Linked DNA regions of Homo sapiens: all the other regions are linked to region 1. The links come from fine-mapping of genetic effects on gene expression. A gene starts in region 1. Each other region holds a variant in brackets. All regions are shown on one strand. Distances are from middle to middle.

Region 1 (2,764 bases):
TACAGTGTGCCTGGCATAAAACAAACTCTGAGAACATTTTTTAAAAAATCCTTTCAAGGTAGGCAGTATCATTCCTTCCCCCTCATTTCATAGATGGGGCAATTAAGGCTCAGAAAGGCACGTCGCTTGTCCAGGATCTTGGAGTGGTGGAATTAGGATAGGGCATTCTGGACTACAATAAACACCTGAGCGTTTAGCTGCTGTGTTCTGAGCTCCCACAGCACTTTTTCTTACAACACAAACTTTATTTACATCACACTCCACTTCCGCATCCTTCACTAAAATATGAGCTCTTCAAGGGCAGGGACTATATTTTTGCTACCGCAGTAGTTAGCGATACACACACAGAATATGAGGAAAAAGTGTCTGACCAACGATCAATGCACTCACGACTGAACCTACGGTGGCAGATTGCAGTGGGATAGAAGAGCTTTATGTGAATTGCGTACTGAGATGCAGACCTACTATTTTGGGAACAATTTGTTTTTGTTGTTGAAACCCAGAATGCAATTCTTCTTTTTACCTTTATTTTGCTTAAAAAGTTATTCCATAATTATAAACTGCGTAAAACTAGAAGAATGCCCTTGCACTCAACTAAAACTGACAGGTGTTTTACCTTTCCAGTCAGGCACATTGAAGGCCTTGTGACTTTATTGATTTTTGTTTTTTAAAGGGAGGACCTGCCAATTTATTAATCTTAATAGAGCTGTAACAGGAGAGTATAAATAAAAAGATAGTTCAGAGAAAATTTACTGAAATTAAGTTTGGATTAAAATCATCTGGCTCTTTTAAGGAAAAGGGACATTAACCAAAAGTGGCGTTAACTATCAACAATATTTATGATTCTCTCACTCAGTAGATACATAATGACGTCTGGCAAATTGTTTAACTTCCGTGGAACAATCCCCTCATATGTAAAATCAGGAGGTTGGACTACATTGTAAGTGTCCTTTTGTTTCCACCTCTTCGTGACCGAATGTGGGGTGAGGAAGGGGCAAAAAAGCGATCCCGGTCTTGGCTCCTTCTTCCGGCACGGGCCGGAGCTGACACCCCCACGGAAAACCGCACAGCGCCTCCGCTCTTTCTCCACGGGCTGAGGGATCAATGCACTTCCGCATAGGCCTAGGGCCCCACGCTCCGCGATCAGCGCCGGAAGCGCACGGCATGCTGGGATTTGTAGTCCTCCACCTGTGGCCGGCAGGCGTTTAGAACGCGAGGTCTAGTTGGCATTCTGGGATACATAGTTCCTGGGCGGGTGGGGGCGGATTCGTTGGTGTAATCTCTTTTCGGCTTAAAGAGCCAGAAGCGACACCACAGACTCCGGCGGGTCACATGACTCCAGTCTAGCTCGCATTGCGGCTCCCGCCCGGGCGAGTTCTCGCCCCCGCGCGGCCGTTGCCGAGGAGACGGCGCATGTCCCGCCGCGCGTTGCCCCCTCTGCAGTACCCCCGCCCCTCTTCTCCCACCACAATGAGATCCTAAGATGGCGGTGGCTGCGGCGGTTGGCGCTGCGTAGCTGAGGTCGAAAAGGCGGCCACTGGGGCCGAGGCAGCCAGGAAACGTGTGGGCCTCTCTGCTGCGGTCTCCGAGGGCCGACCGCTGCCGGCGGCGGGTCGTGGGGGCTGACTGTCGCTCTGCCTTTGACAGGAGAGGCTGCTTCTTGTAGAGGTAATGCCTGCGCGTCCCCAGCCCTTGGCAACCTAGGGCGGCGCGCCCCAGAGGCGGGAGAGTAACGGCTCCGGGACACTCGGCCCTGTTGGGTCTGGCCACGGGCCCACGCCTCCTCTGTAGGTTCCCGGGTCTTCCTGCCCCGGGCTTCCCGTGCCCTAGGCGGTCAGTCCGCCCGCTCCCTCAGGACTGATCGCCGGGATCCCCGGGTGAGCACCTCGCGACGCGTTGGTGATTGCAGGACTCCCTTCTTGCCTCCTCGCCCCTCCTGCTGGCCCTGTCGGGGAGGCTGTTCTGCGTCCCGGTGGCTCCGGCTATACCCCTTGCGGGCGGAGGAAGCGGAGCGGGGACTCTGGTTTGGGTGCTAGGGGCACTGGGTCGAGTTCTTAGAGAAACAGGCCTTGGTGGCCATAGTTCTTCCCCGCGTTCCCTCTGTGGAACTCTCGGTGTCCAGAGTTTGGGGTGTAGAAGGGCGGATGAGGAGCGACGCGACTCTGAAGAGTTGCAGTTGGGCTGTGAGCTGCAGGATTTCCGCCGTCTCTGGTGCTGTGGGAGCCGATGGGCCGGGGGAGGCGTTCCTGGGAAGGTTAATGGAGTAATTATTGCCCCTTCTTTCTCCCTTCCTACCTATCTAGTTAGAATTGGGCCTAGAACCGGGAAAGACTAAATGCCAAGTGGGACTGGGGGAAACGTTGTTTGGTTTACAGAAACTGGCGTTTGGGGATTAGGCCCCGCCAGGGAGGCTGGGCGCGCCAACTTTGCATCCCTCAGCCTACTCCCCAGGAACTCGCCTGGTTTAATTTTTTTTGTTTTGTTTTGTTTTTTTGAGCGAGTTGAGGTCTGTATTGTGTGTCTTACGGGTGACGGTTCGTGTTTGGGCGCTGGAAGGAGCGGGCTTTCTGGGCGCCCCTACCACCCCCGCCCCATAACCGCTTTCCAGACTCCGCCTGCTGGTGTTCTCTGGTTACCGGAGTGGGTGTTGCAGAGCCTCGGGTGCACCTGCTCCTTTCTTTCCCTAGCACCTTCCTGGTGAGGACCCCTGAACACCAATATAATACAGAGTTTTTGAATTGAAGGTAAACCTGGTATTTATGTA
Region 2 (2,500 bases), 33 kb after region 1:
CATAGTGGCCCTGTTTAACTTAACCTAGAACCAAGTTTATCAAGTTAGTTACCAAGTTTACTCGTTAGTTAAAACTAACTAGAGTACTTCTCTAGTTAGTTTTCCAAGGTAGAATATCATTATTCTTGTCAATTTCCATCTTTTTTCTTTCCTTTCTGTTTTAACCCAGTGGTTATATTGTAAAGGTGATAGAACCTGTGGAAGAAAGAGGTAAACAAGTCTTTGTACATTTTGATGTGTTTAATTGTGGAGTAAGTTAATAAACAATTTTCTGAAATTTAAATCTGCAGAAATTAAGTTGTTAATTTTTACTTTTTAGTTTTCAATATCCAAGCCAACTGTATGTGTTTGTTTATGGTAACTGGTGATTAAAAAAAATTTTTTGTTGTTGTGCCTTCTTCAGCCTCTCCACAAAGGAGTGTCGATCAGAGAAGTACTTCAGCTCCCTCTGCTTCTGTAGGCTTGGCACCGGTTGTCAATGGAGAATCCAATAGCCTCACATCATCTGTTCCTTATCCTACTGCTTCTCTAGTATCTCAGAATGAGAGTGAAAACGAAGGCCACCTCAATCCATCTGAAAAACTCCAGTAAAACATTTATAATCATTGTTTACATGAAGTTAAATAATAGGGATAAATTCTGTTTTTTTTTTTATGTTGAAAATTCTGCAAAACGAGATTTATTTAATATTGTTGTAAACATTCTTAAGGGATAGGTAGAAGAGGCGTGTGTGTGTTGTGTGGGCATAATTTGAGTTGTCTAAGAGATGTGATGTAACATAGTTTCTGTGAACTGATGTTACTTTCTTGTTTTTCAAATAAAGGATCAAAAATAAGATTACAGTTAAAATATTTCTATATTCAGATGGTTTAGAGACCAGGCTGTAGAATCAGACAGCCCTGAAATTGTATCACACAAGGCTGTGTTACCCTGTACAAATAACTTAGCCTTACTAAGCCTGTATTTCCTCATCTGCAAAATAGGGATGATAATATACCTGTTGATAAATATGTTTTCATTAAAAAACGTTGGCGCAGTTCCTGGCACTTACAGTAAGAACTCAGCTAACTTAATTTTTATTTTTGGTAAACGTAGTATGTAGTGTATAGATCTCATATGTGCAGACAAATCAAGAACCTTCCATACATGCTCAGTAATGTCTGTATACCTGATTTTCCTGAGAGGTAGTATTTAGTAGTACTTCACACTTTTGATACTTGAGAAACTAGAAATCTTTTTGACATCAGGTTTTCTGCTATTAACATTTACACCTGCTTAAAATGAACAATTAAATTGAAATTGGTTTTCTTACACTTTTGTCCCTAAAACAGCATAAGAAAATAATGTGAGATTTTGAGTAAGCTGTACTTGGCATTAACCTCATTATTTTACAGTCATACCCCCTGGAGAGTTCACTAGGTGGATATTCCATTAGGTCTAAATTTTGTTTCTGTTAGCTGCTATGATATGAAAATAATGTCTGTATTATTTTGCTAAAATGGGTGTAAATC[G/T]TATACATAAATTTTTTGTTTATCAGGAAGTTAAATGAAGTTCGAAAGAGATTGAATGAGCTAAGAGAATTAGTTCATTATTATGAACAAACGTCAGACATGATGACAGATGCTGTGAATGAAAACAGGAAAGATGAAGAAACTGAAGAGTCAGAATATGATTCTGAGCATGAAAATTCCGAGCCTGTTACTAACATTCGGTAAGAACTTTTCTGGGGATGTTTTTCCAGCATATTCATTCTGTCTTGATACTTATAATGTGGGAACAAAAATACTTCGTTGTAGTATTTACTATTTGCCTTTTATTTAAGCTTTCTACTATTTTGGTCAGTGTAATCATCTCTGCCCTGTGAAGAAAGATGAATAGGGAAGTATGGAGTACAATAGTTCAGTAAATTTGCCCTTTGTTAGACTGAATTCGAGTAAATCATGAGATGTATCTAACTTAGCATTTTGCTGTCTTTTTCTTTTTAGGCGTAATTTTCATTTTTTCAGATGTTTTTCTACTTAAATAGCACATATGCAGAAGTTAATGAAAAGCAGGAGTCGATTATTCAATTTGAATTTAAATGGAATAGCCAACAATGTGCTTGGTTTGGTGTTATTTTATTAGCAGTTCTAAACTTGGATTTCTTTCTCTCTTTTTTTGTGCCTTAAATGACTTCAGGCTGTTTTCTTTCTTCTAGAAATCCACAAGTAGCTTCCACTTGGAATGAAGTAAATAGTCATAGTAATGCACAGTGTGTTTCTAATAATAGAGATGGGCGAACAGTTAATTCTAATTGTGAAATTAACAACAGATCTGCTGCCAACATAAGGGCTCTAAACATGCCTCCTTCTTTAGGTATGACTGACTGTATTTACATATAATTTTGCTGTGTTATTCTTACAAAGTGGGTTTTCGTTCATGTGTGCTCTTTCCTTTAAAAGTTACTGGTTTTAATTATACATGTTTTCAGCAGATTGTCGATATAATAGAGAAGGGGAAC
Region 3 (2,500 bases), 74 kb after region 1:
GGTTCTCTGTTCTGTTCTGTCGGTCTGTGTTTCTGTTGTTTGTATGCCAGTACCACGCTGTTTTGGTTACTATAGCTCTGTGGTATAATTTGAAGGCAGGTTAATGTGATTCTTCCAGTTTTGTTCTTTTTGCTCAAGATAGCTTTGGCTGTTCTGAGCTTTTTTTGTGGTTCCTATAAATTTTAGGATTCTTTTTTCTCTGTGAAGAATGTCATTGGTATTTTGATCACAATTGTATTGAATCTGTAGATTGCTTCGGGGAGTACAGACATTTTAACAATATTGATTTTTCCAATCCATGAACATGGAATATCTTTCCCTTTTTGTGTCTTTTTAAATTTCTTTCATCAGTGTTTTATAGTTTTCATTGTAGAGATCTTTCACTTATTTGGTTAATTCTTAGGTATTTAATTTTATTTGTGTCTGTTGTAAATGAGATTACTGGTGGCATATAGAAATGCTACTGATTTTTGTGTGTTGACTTTGTATCCTGCAACTTTACTGAATTTGTTGATCAGTTCTAATAGTATTCTTGTGGAGTCTTTAGGCTTTTCCAAGTATAAGATTATATATATATCATATACAAACAAGGATAATTTGATTCTTCCTTTCCAGTTTGGATCCCCTCTATTTCTTTCTCTTGTCTGATTACTCTAGCTAGGACTTCCAGTACTATGTTGAATAACAGTGGTGAAAGTGGACATCCTTGTTGTGTTCCAGATCACAAAGGAATGGCTTTCAGTGTTTCCCCATTTAGTATGATACTAGCTGTGGGTCTGTTGTATATGGCTTCTAGTATGTTGAGGTATGTTTCTTCTATACCCAGTTTTTTGAGGGCTTTTATCATGAAAGGATGTTGAATTTTATCAAATGGTTTTTCAGCATCAGTTAAAATGATCATATGGGTTTTGTCCTTCATTCTGTTGATATGATGTATTACATTGATTGATTTACCTATGTTGAACCATCCTTGCATCCCTGGGATAAATCCCACTTGGTCACGATGGATCATCTTTTTAATGTGTTGTTGAATTCCGAGGTATCGGTTGTAATGTCTCCTTTTTCATCTCTGATATTATTTGGGTTTTTTGTCTTTTTTTCTTAGTCTGGTTAATGGTTTGCCAATTTTATGTATCTTTTAAAATACCAACTTTTTGTTTCGTTGCTCTTTTGTATTTTATTTCAATTTCATTTATTTCTGCTTTGATCTTTATTATTTCTTCTATTTTGGGTTTGGTTTGCTCATGCTTTTCTTGTTTTTTAACATCCATTGTTTTCGTATCTGTTATATGTATGTTTTTGGATTTCAGGTTACCATGAGGATTGCAAATACTGTCTTATAACTCAGTATTTTAAACCGATAACACTGATTGCATAAACAAACAAGCAAACAAAATGAAAACTTATGCAAATGTTAACTTTGTTTCCCTGCTTTTTAACTCTTTGTTGTTTCTCTTTATATCTTACTGTACCATGTCTTGAAAA[G/C]TTGTTGTAGCTACTATTTTTGGTTGGTTCATCATTTTGTCTTTCCACTTAAGAGTAGTTTACACACCACAATTACAGTGTTATAATATTCTGTGTACTTTCTATTACTGGTGAATTTTGTACCTTCAGACGATATCTTACTGCTCATTAATGTCTTCTTTTAGATGGAAATAAAGTATTTAGTATTTCTTGTCAGACAGGTCTGGTGTTGATGAAATCCCTCAGCTTTTGTCTGGGAAAGTATTTCTCCTTCGTGTTTGAAGGATATTTTTGCTGGATGTACTATTCTAGGGTAAAAGTTTTCTTCCTTCAGCACTTGAAACATGTCATGACACTCTCTCCTGACCTGTAAGGATTCTAGTGACAAGTCTACTGCCAGATATATTGGAACCCCATTATATGTTATTTGTTTCTTTTCTCTTGCTGCTTTTAGGGTCCTTTCTTTATCCTTGATGTTTGGCAGTTTGATTATTAAATGCCTTGAGATAGTCTTATTTGGATTAAACTATCCTGGTTTTCTGTAACCTTCTTGTACTTGAATGTTGTTAAGCTTACTACCTCTGTCTCTCTCTACCCCCTCTTTAAGGCCAATAACTTAGATTTGTCCTGTTGAGGTTATTTTGCAGATCCTGTAGGTGTGCTTTATTGTGTTTTACTTTTTTTTTCTTTTGTCTCCTCAAGTTGTGTGTTTTCAAAGAGCCTGTCTTCAAGCTAATTCTTTAGCTTGATCAATTCTATTGAGAGATTGATGCATTCTTTAGTATGTCAGTTGCGTTTTTCAACTCTAGAATTTCTGCTTGATTCTTTTAAATTATCTCAATCTGTTTATTAAATTTATCTATGAATATAGAATTCTGAATTCCCGGCCAGGTGCTATGGCTCACACCTGTGATCCCAGCACTTTGGGAGGCTGGGGCGGGTGATCACTTGAGGTCAGGAGTTTGAGACCAGCCTGGCCAACACGGTGAAACCCCGCCTCTACTACAACATACAAAAAAAAAAAAAAAGTAGCTGG
Region 4 (2,764 bases), 110 kb after region 1:
GTAGTTCAATTTTTTTCTTCTATCTATATTAGCAGTCATATATACATTAGATATATGTTAGAATGCTTTTGGTTTTAACCTACAATTCCTTACCAGGAAATATTTGGACAGTATTATAATAAAGCAACAAAGAGATAGGGTTTCTATGACATTTGGAAATGTACAATGCAAAAAAAAACCCAAAAACCCTGCTGTTCTTCATTTTCCTATCTGTGAAATGCAGGAAGAATTATCCTAGATCCAAGGATGCTTTTAGTATTTTCAAAGGAAGACTTACGAAAAGAATTAAAAATGGAAATTAGTGAATGAGCAATTATACAAATAATTATCGGTGTTTATTGAAGTCCCAGCGAATAAGAAAGTGAAAAACCATAGTAACTCTTTATTTTATAACAAAAATGGGATTAAATTACAAGGATTCAGGTGACCCCAACTTTTGTCCATTTTCTATGACTTGGGAGGCTTCTGGACTTCTCTTTGGCATGGTGGCACTGCCTGAAAAAAAAAAAACAGGGACTTCTTGTTCCTCAAGTCTTTTTGGGGCATGTTACTTAGTCGACAACACAGAAGAAGGATACTACAATAAACTGTTTTTCTTCCCACTCCTAGGCTTTGAAAAACTAGTCAGTTATTGTAGTCCATTCTCCAACCTTAAACAACTAAATGATACTTTAAGTTAGTTTGCCACCCTTGGCGTTAGAGTCTTTCTGTATGGTAAGATTCAAAAAATTCATATGGAAGTATGTTAAGGTTTATGTTAAGGTTCACATAGATACTAGATATTGACGTGTTAAAACGGAGTTGTTGGTTGCCCCACATCTGATTGTTCTAGTCTTCTCATCTTAGTACGTGCCAGTTCCATCCTTCTACTTTCTTAGGACAAACCCCTTGACATTGTCTGTGGCTCAACTCTGTATCCCAAACCCTTCATCCAACCCTTCAGTAAATATGGTCAGCTACACCTTTAAAAAGTAAGTCGAATCCAGCTGGTTTTCACTACCTCTTCCACTGCCATCTTTATTCAAGTCACTCTTATCTCTTGCCTCGATTCCTGTAGTAGCCTCCTAATGGCCAGACCCGTCACTTCCTAGACTTTCTATAATCTAGTCTCAGCACAGCAACCAAAGTGATACTGTTCAGATGATACCAGTAGCTTCCTATTTTATTCCAAGTAAAAGCAAAAATGACTTCAGAAGGCCCTACAGGACAATTCTCTAC[C/T]TCTTCCTTTCTTATTTTCCGTGTGCTTCAGTCACACTGACCTCTTTGCTGTTCAGACCTGCCAGGCATCATTGCATGCAGGGCCTTTTGCATTTACTGTTACCTCTACTTAGAATGTTCTTTCCTCAGATATTTTTATGGCAGACGTTTAGTGAATCTTCTTTATGTATCCAACCTAAAATTGCACCTCCCCACAGTTTATTTTTATCTTCTTGCCCTCAGCTTATTTTTCTCCATATTACTTATCCACAGTTAACAATATTTTACTTATTTTATGTCTTTCTCCACCCCCTCAGTTAGAATGTAAGCTCTTTAAGGGTAGGAATTTTTCTCTGCTTTGTTCACTGCAATATTTCTTGTCTTTAAGCAGATCCTGGAATGTAGAAATTTTTCAATATCTGTTACATAAACAAGTAAATTTGAGTATTTCGAAGAGAGATTCAAGGTCATCAGTATGTTTTACTAAGAAGGATTGGACATCTTATTTAACTATGGCAAATGGATTCTTCTCCACTTCAACAGTTTTAACAAAAACAGTGGAATATTCCTATAATAGTACTTTTCAGAGAGAAAAGTTTCAGCTGAGGAAAATGAAATATATGCTTATCTATTCCAAGTCTGCTAATAGGTAAGTCATATTAGTTGATTGATATAATTTGAAATTAACATGAAATTTAAGTTTAAAATGCAGTGAATCTAATGATAACATACAACAATAGATTTTAAAGTAATCATTGGAAAACCTTCAGAAAAACTAGGCTGTTAGTCAAATTGAAGAATATCTCCTAAGGGTTTCTGGAAAGAGACCCCTGCCCTAATTTCCCACTAAAAGGTCCAGAAAAATTGATGCCACCTGTAGTTTGGCAACGTGCACTAAAAAGTTCAAGGTACCGTCTTTGGCATAGCAATTTAATTGCTAGAAATCCTAACAATAAATATCTTAAGCTCTAAGAATCTTTATATATATAAAATATATGGATAATCATTCTTTGTCCTACATATTTAAGCTCTATCATCTATTTTAAGTAATTTTTTTTTGGTATGGTATGAGGTAAGGATCAGGTTCTATTTTTCTCCTATATAGAAATCCAGTGCCTTCATTTGTTCAAAGGACTTTTCCTACTGTCTTGTTACCTTTGTGGAAATCAATTGACCATATATGTGTGGCTCTATGTCTGGAATTTCTGTTATGTTCTGTTGATTTATATGTCTATTGTTACATCAGTATTACACTGTCTTGACTACTATAGCTTTATAGTAAGTCTTGAAATTAAGAAACGTAAGTCCTTGCTTGATGACTTGGGATACAGAAAAAAAAATCTCCTCTGAGCTGTTCTAACACTCAATAAAGTTTGTCTTCATCTTGCTCCCCCAAAAAAAAAAAAAAAAAAAAAAAAAAAGAAAGAAAAAGAAACGTTAAGTCCTCTAACTTTGTTCTTTTGCAGACATTTTTGGCTATGTTCTTTTCATTTTCATGTTTTGCATTTTCAATTTCAGTTTTCACAAACCAAAAACCTGCTGGGAGTTTTATTAGAATTGCATTGAA

Evidence for each region.
Region 2: its variant is fine-mapped to the expression of PCM1 in whole blood (TOPMed, PIP above 0.99). The same link has a PIP of 0.9 or more in gastroesophageal junction, tibial nerve and visceral fat.
Region 3: its variant is fine-mapped to the expression of PCM1 in whole blood (INTERVAL, PIP 0.91).
Region 4: its variant is fine-mapped to the expression of PCM1 in whole blood (TOPMed, PIP 0.96).

What each region holds. Positions count from the first base shown.
Region 1 is chr8:17,921,521-17,924,284 of GRCh38, forward strand. PCM1 (pericentriolar material 1) reads left to right here and starts at 1,468. Exons shown (of 39, transcript NM_006197.4): 1 at 1,468-1,668. LOC124901867 reads right to left here. Exons shown (of 4, transcript XM_047422505.1): 2 at 2,637-2,707; 3 at 1,989-2,246; 4 at 1-1,826. The coding sequence ends at 1,144. RefSeq lists enhancers at 836-1,285, 2,436-2,495 and a silencer at 1,680-1,974.
Region 2 is chr8:17,955,067-17,957,566 of GRCh38, forward strand. It overlaps PCM1 (pericentriolar material 1), which reads left to right. Exons shown (of 39, transcript NM_006197.4): 10 at 404-587; 11 at 1,538-1,711; 12 at 2,198-2,355; 13 at 2,474-2,500. Among named protein-coding and RNA genes, the nearest start is that of PCM1, 33 kb to the left of the region's middle. The variant G/T (reference allele first, on the strand shown) is at 1,512.
Region 3 is chr8:17,995,395-17,997,894 of GRCh38, forward strand. The region is part of intron 29 of PCM1 (pericentriolar material 1); the gene reads left to right. Among named protein-coding and RNA genes, the nearest start is that of PCM1, 74 kb to the left of the region's middle. The variant G/C (reference allele first, on the strand shown) is at 1,486.
Region 4 is chr8:18,033,672-18,036,435 of GRCh38, forward strand. LOC124901894 (a long non-coding RNA gene) reads right to left here. Exons shown (of 2, transcript XR_007060836.1): 2 at 317-495. Among named protein-coding and RNA genes, the nearest start is that of ASAH1, 49 kb to the right of the region's middle. The variant C/T (reference allele first, on the strand shown) is at 1,219.